2 separate regions of the Homo sapiens genome follow, and region 2 is reported to be linked to region 1. Evidence: microRNA targets listed by miRTarBase, many of them from high-throughput screens and not tested one by one. Region 1 holds a microRNA gene; the other region holds the end of a gene's coding sequence. Distances are from middle to middle.
What was found. The annotated mature microRNA hsa-miR-604 reads AGGCUGCGGAAUUCAGGAC and lies in region 1 at 2,289-2,307, opposite strand. An mRNA with a match to its seed (bases 2 to 7 or 8) in the 3' UTR can be bound and repressed. Matches are read on the target gene's strand: a 7mer-m8 pairs with bases 2 to 8, a 7mer-A1 pairs with bases 2 to 7 and ends in A, and an 8mer does both.

Region 1 (3,412 bases):
CTGTTGTGCTAACACAAAGCAGGTCTTATTCATTTTTTCTAACTACTTTTTGTACCCGTTAGGTGCTGGACATTTGAATATCCTTCCTATGACATAGGGTGCCTGTGAAGTGGCATCTGTGGGACTCCTCATTTGGCTCATGACCTGTTTCTCCTCTTTTCCCTTCCAGTACAATCATCAGCAACCCAGAAGCCAAACTAATAACATCAGGGCTCTGTTTGCCAAGCTGAGCCAAGCTCCAGCTCTGTCTCTGGGAAACTCACGATATGATAATGAGAGCAGACTGGTGCGAGAGTCTAAACACCACAGAAAGTGGAAGTGACTCCAAAAATGGTCCCAGTTTCTATTAGCCCATTTATGCCTAGTGTTCCATTATTGGAATGCTAAGCAAGTGGGAGTTATTTATATTCTACTGCTCAAGGACAGCACCAAGGTCTGATTGCAAAAATTCAAAAAATTGCAACCTCGGGCATACATGGGTTAAGAGAGAGAGAAGTTACCAAAACACAACAAAACAACCTGGAAAGGTCAAGAAAGCAGGGCAGATGGGAAGGTGGACTCTTCTCTGGACACATTTGTCAGTGGCCCTATTAGAAAGAGATATCCAGATGTAATCTGACCACTGCAGGACGCAGGGGGACCATTGCCTACCTATGCTATTGGCAACTCACTTTCATTAATGTCCCCCAAGATTGGACTAATCACTTTGGCAGTCATATAAAGAACTTGCTGTCAACTAAAACCCTTAGGTCTGTTTCCCACGAACTGCTGTTAAATCAGGTTTCCACAATCTTGAACTTGTGCACTGATTTTTTTTCCATCTAAATTCAAGACTTCATTAAATTTCACCTTGTTAGTTTCTAACCATTGTTCCGGGTACACGTGCTCTCTTGCCTACATGATCCTGTTCTCTCGCACTCTCTCCCCCTCCTTCTTACCTCTCTTCCTCCTCCATCTCTCCCCTCTCCCCTGCCTCCTTTAGTCATCAAACTTACAATCCCTCCTCCAGAAATCTGATCTAAATACATGCATTTATATGCATGTATTACATATGGTACTTAAAAAGCCTTGTTCTCATAAACAAACAGACAACTTATTTTATGGAATCTTGGGGTGAGCCAACCCTTCACAGGGCAGAGGTCACCTACAAGGGGAGAGGCTTATAGGGTTATTGGGGACCAGAATGAGGAAGTGGTGACTTTAGGTGTGTGTATCAGAACTGTTTTGATGCAGCAACTGGCTGGCAGAGAATTGTATTACCAGGAAATAATAACTCACTCCAGGTTTTCATAAAGGCCAGGGGTTGCCCTTGGGTTGTATCCCTAAGTATATAATAGTATATAATGATCAGCTTTAACTCCCTACAACTCCCAAGGGTCTACAGACTAAAAAGTGCTTCCTGTTACCAAAGTGAAGTCAAATGCAGCACAGTCAAATTAGTTTCTCCATGTGGGTGTCCAGCTCTAATTATATAACAGCTTCTAATTATAAAACGTTAAGAATGGCTATTAACTTTTGAATCTCATTAAAATTAACGGTTAATTTGCTAAAAGTCGCTTGTTTGGAAAAACTGCTAATGACCGTTCTGCAGATAGGTACAGGTACAAAATCTGCAAGGACACAGGCTCAAGGAAAAATTTTGCATTTAAAATCTCACACACCTTTGAGTTTTTAGCTAGTGTACATAGTAGCTAGGGTTTGGGGAGATATATTTACATTTAGTCCAATGAATAGGAATAGTCTGCCAGGCCCGGTGGCTCACACGTGTAGTCCCAGCACTTTGGGAGGCCAAGACGGGTGGATCGCTTAACACCAGGAGTTCCAGACCAGCCTGGGCAACATTGTGAAACCCCATCTCTTCCAAAAAATTCAAAAATTAGCCAGGCATAGTGGCGTGCATCTGTTAAGTCCCAACTACTCAGAAGGCTGAGGCAGGAGGAACGCTCGAGCCCAGGAAGTCAAGGCTGCAGTGAGATTGTGCTACTGCTGCACTCCAGCCTGGGCAACAGAGTGAGACCTTTTCTAAAAAAAAAAAAAAAAAAAAAAAAAGAATAAGAATTGTCACTTGACAATAAGAACAGGATGAAATGAAAAAAAAGAGGGAATGACTTACCCATCTATTTTAACAGTTGGGATTCTAGAGTATGGCAGGGAGCACAGGTGTTTGGGGGTACAGGGACTGAAAGGTGAAGCCAATTCCATTCCAGTAATAGAATAAGCTGTGAGGAGGACCCAGATGTCTGTTCTTTAGAATGGCCCCCAAGATGTATGTTTCTCCATGATGCACTGTCCTGAATTCCGCAGCCTGTGTCAGAAAACCTGCCTGCTAGTGGACACGAGAGCGTGGAAGGTCAAGCACGATGCTCTCCTGCAGACACCTCTCTCAGTGCATGGAAACAGACCACTGAGCCAAGAGAGCTTGAGGCTCTGGAGACGGTTTTTAGACTAAAATCTCTCATCAGGAGATGAGCAAATGCAATCAGAAATAAACTCCAAGTGCCCAGCACAAGCCCCTTCCTTTCTTAGTGGCTGAGGCTGCACCGTGTCAAGTTGTTACAGAAGCTGCATTCCAGAGGGTGCCCTGGTCTATTTCCTGAGCCGATCGGCGGCTCTCTGGCATCCATGGGGAGCCCTGCCCAAACCATCATCCACCAATGGCAACTCTCCCAGGGGTCCAATGTCAGCCTCAGCTCTGCATGAAACCTCCATATCATGTTCTCACTACTAAGGACACAATTTGCTAAAGAGAAAAGAGTGGTGAGGGGCTGCAGTACAGTAATGACAAACAAAACTAATAAACGAGGGTTTTCTAGAGTGGATCACCACTAGAAAATGAGGTCTACCAGCCGGGCGTGGTGGCTCACGCCTGTAATCCCAGCATTTTAGGACGCCGAGGTGGGCGTATCATGAGGTCAAGGGATCAAGACCATCCTGGCCAACATGGTGAAACTCCGTCTCTACTAAAAATACAAAAATTAGTTGGGTGTGGTGGCGCATGCCTGTAGTCCCAGCTACTTGGGAGGCTGAGGCAGGAGAATCGCTTGAACCCAGGAGGTGGAGGTTGCAGTGAGCCAAGATTGCACCACTGCACTCCAGCTTGGAGTCAGAGTGAGACTCTGTCTCAAAAAAAAAAAAAAAAAAAAAAAAAAGAAAAAGAAAAAAGAAAGAAAGAAAATGAGGTCTACCTTTCATTTCATTCCCTTTGCCAGTCACATAGTTCCCTGAGAACAGAGAGTGATGGCCGGATGCTCAGCAAAGGCAACAGCAGGACTGAAGACAGTGAGTTTCTCCACTCATAAAAGTAAAAAATACAGCACATTTTCTTTATATAGATACGTGAGATGCATAAAGTAACAAATTCAACAAGAGCTTTGGATTCGGAATTTCTAGTAGTAGAAGCTCAAGCTCAGGT
Region 2 (3,412 bases), 14 Mb from region 1:
CACCCAGAAGTCTGGTTATTCAAGACACTATGTGAGACTAAAGAAACACAGACTTTTCCCCCCTCGGTTCTCTGAAACTGCCCCTCCCTTAGTCTCTAGCTGTGTAAAAACTCCCCATGCCTGGCATGGTGGCTTATGCCTATAATCCCAGCACTTTGGAAGGCCGAGGCTGTAGTGTACTATGTCGATTGGGTATCTGCAGCAAGTTCGGCCTCGCTATGACCTCCCAGGAGTGGAGGACCACCACGTTGCCTAAGGAGGGGTGAACTGGCCCAGGTTGAAAACGGAGGTCAAAACTTCCATGCTGAGGCTGTGCGCGGTGGCTCACGCTTATAACCCCAGCACTTTGAGACTCTCTCAAAGTCACTGCACTCCAGCCTGGGTGATATAGGGAGACCCCCATCTCTAAAAAAACAAAACAAACAAAAAAACTCCACGCTGCTTCTTTTTGTTAAGGCAGATTTCTCACCTTGGCCAAATCAAATAAACCTTTATCTCCAAGCACCTTTGTCTTGGTGTTTGGCATCAGCTACACATCAGGTACGCAAGCCTGAATTTGGGGTTCTACAACATAACAAGATGCAGTATCTTGACTTTTACCTTGCAGGGAATGCCCTAGTCATGCCCAAGGCCACAGGTTGAAAAACATTTCCTGTAGTGTCAGTAAATATTTTAGGTTTTGTGGGCCATGTGGTCTCTGATACAACTACCCATCTCTCTGCCTGCTGTAGTACCTGGGCAGCCATGGACAGTATTAACAAATGGGCACGGCTGTGTGTAGCAACAAATGGGCATGGCTGGGTGCCATGGTGCATGCCTGAAATCTTAGAACTTTGGGAGGCTGAAGAATACAGATCACTTGAGCTGAGGAGTTCAAGACCAGTCTGGGCAACATAGTGAGACCCCATCTCTACAAAAAATACAGAAATCAGCCGGGCATAGCGGTGTGCGCCTCCAGTCCCAGCTACTTGAGAGGCTGAGGTGGGAGGATAACTTGAGCACGGGAGGCTGACACTGCAGTGAGCCAATATCATGCCACTAGACTCCAGCCTGGGCATCAGAGAGAGACTTGTCCCTCCCCAACAAAAGTTAACAATCCTGGAGCAAGGGGATGTTTTGCTGTCCATGTTATGTTGTTACCTTGGGATGTCAGGTCATCTAACACATTCCCTTTCCCATCCCCTGGAGCCCTTTCCACCCATGCATCCTAAATCTAGCATAGACTTCCAGGGTTGTGAAGGTACTCTTTGAATCTCCACCACTCTACGAAATCTGAGGTCTCATCTTCATGGCATTCCAGCCCCATTTCCAGCGGAAACTCCACCTGTTTCTGTGGGTCTCCCTCACCTACAGGCCTCTCCTTCCCCATGCAGTGCTGACACTTGAAGCATGGTAGGCCCATGGGTGGGCAGAGATCCCAGATCAGGGTTACAGCAAGGACAGTTCTCCCTAGGTTTCCCCCATGCCAGTCTTCCGAGTGCCTCTTTCTGCGTCCCTGTACCCTGCCATTCCTGGTGATGCTGCTGCCCTCACATCAGGCCATCCAAGCATGCAGAACATAAGCATGCAGAACACTGGAACGAAGGGCTGTACCTAAGGTGAGCCTCTGAAGCCCAATGAGGCTAGAAAAGGCTGAAGACTTCACAGACCTAATTTTTAATGCAGCTCTCAGGGGTTTTACCAAGAGCATTTATTTACTCTTTAAGATACTAATGAAGACCCTTAATATTGGTAAAATCATAACATATAGGTTACATTATACAGCTAGTGAAGTGGGAAAATAAAGTTGAAGAATTCCCAATGGTAGATAGCATTTTTGCACAGAATGGTTTTAAATAAACTCCACATTTTAAAGTCCTGATGGTTTGTATTTAGCATAAGGTTTAAAATGATAGTAATACTGTATGCTATATATAGAGCTGCCTGAATTTCAACATTGCTGTTGCCAAGGTAGATAGCAATTTGAAAATGGGTCTCAAGCTTGATAATGTGTATCCTGTCATAACCTAATTAACAAATGCGCCCTACAGAAATCAGGAGCGTGACCAAAAAAAAAAGTTTAAATCAGCATTTTATAAAAACTAGAAACAAAATAATTGCTTTCACAATGTAGTACTTGAAACTAAAGTTCTCCAGCTATCAACAGATGTGACTCCAGCATCAAGGGCCTAGCAGGAAAATTCTGAATGGTTTACAACAGTGCACATAAGTTGCAGGTGGCTGGGGCCGTGTGTCTATTTGATGCTTCCCAGAATGTGTGCTGCTAGTCACCATTTCCACCATTCACATATTTAACATTTTTATTAGACTTTTATTTAGCCTCATCATAAGAATATAAGGGAGATCATAGATTTGATGTATGAAATTTTTAAATTCACACTAAAATACATTACGATTAAAATGAATTATCTTCAACCACCCGTTTTGCTATCTTTTGCTGAGTAATCTGTGCCAGTCATTGTGAAAAAGTCTTTATTTTAAGAAAAAAATTTAGTTAACAAAAAATTTAACAAGTTTCACTTAGCAAAATACACCCAAAAGGAAATCACAGTACAAAGAAAGTTTTAAGTCAAGGCCTCACCAATTCCTACAGTATTAGTATTGTGTCTCAATTCTCAAAACTAACTTTTAAAAAGCTTAAACTTAACCTAAAGGATTTTAAATGAAAATATAAACTAGAATGAACAAACATGAGAAATATTTCTTTGAATCAGGGAGCTAGCACCTTTGAGTTTTCCAAAAAAGCACGTCTCCCCAGTGTGTTCACTGTGATGTGGTGTAAAAGATCCACATTTAACATACTTAAACTACTTAAACTTAGATAACATCACTCTGAAGTATACTACCAAAATGTTAATTGAGAAAAGCTGAAAATAGTTTTAGTTTACTCATTATCACATGCTAGAAGAAAATTTTGCATGAGAAAACACTGAAGAGGTAATTTTTTAATCCAGATTTTTCACAAACTCATGGTGCAAAATGGGTCCCCCAGCTTCCTCTATTATAACTGCTCTTAATTGCTTGTTGGCTGCCTGTGAAAATGATTGAAGTAACTCAAATGTTCCTAACAAAACTAGTCATAGCCACCCATGCTGTTCTGCCCACTGTAGCCGGCCCCGTAACAGCCACTCACTGACTGGCTCTCCAGGCCACTGTAAGTGGCCTGGGCAGCAGACACCCCCATGCCTTGCATCACCTGGCTGCTATACGCCCCATTGCTGGCCCCTGTTGTTGAATTCAAGAAGAGTTCTATATATCTGTGCTGCATATTGGCCCTGTCTTTGGACATAGCTGCCACAGCTTCTTCATGAGTAGCAAACTCAACATCTGCTTCACCCGTCACTCTTCCATCTGGGCCAATCTCAATATGGACTCTCACAGGGTTGAGAGGAGAGAAGAAGTTGTAAATGTC

Region 2: the mRNA of HNRNPF is a reported target of hsa-miR-604. Seed matches in the 3' UTR shown: 7mer-A1 at 3,026-3,032.

The regions. Positions count from the first base shown.
Region 1 is chr10:29,542,731-29,546,142 of GRCh38, forward strand. MIR604 (microRNA 604) reads right to left here and starts at 2,367; the gene lies at 2,274-2,367. All of the region lies in intron 6 of SVIL (supervillin), which reads right to left.
Region 2 is chr10:43,383,564-43,386,975 of GRCh38, forward strand. HNRNPF (heterogeneous nuclear ribonucleoprotein F) reads right to left here. Exons shown (of 4, transcript NM_001098204.2): 4 at 2,055-3,412. The coding sequence ends at 3,074. Among named protein-coding and RNA genes, the nearest start is that of FXYD4, 14 kb to the left of the region's middle. RefSeq lists enhancers at 1,047-1,196, 1,217-1,296, 1,347-1,426, 3,164-3,412.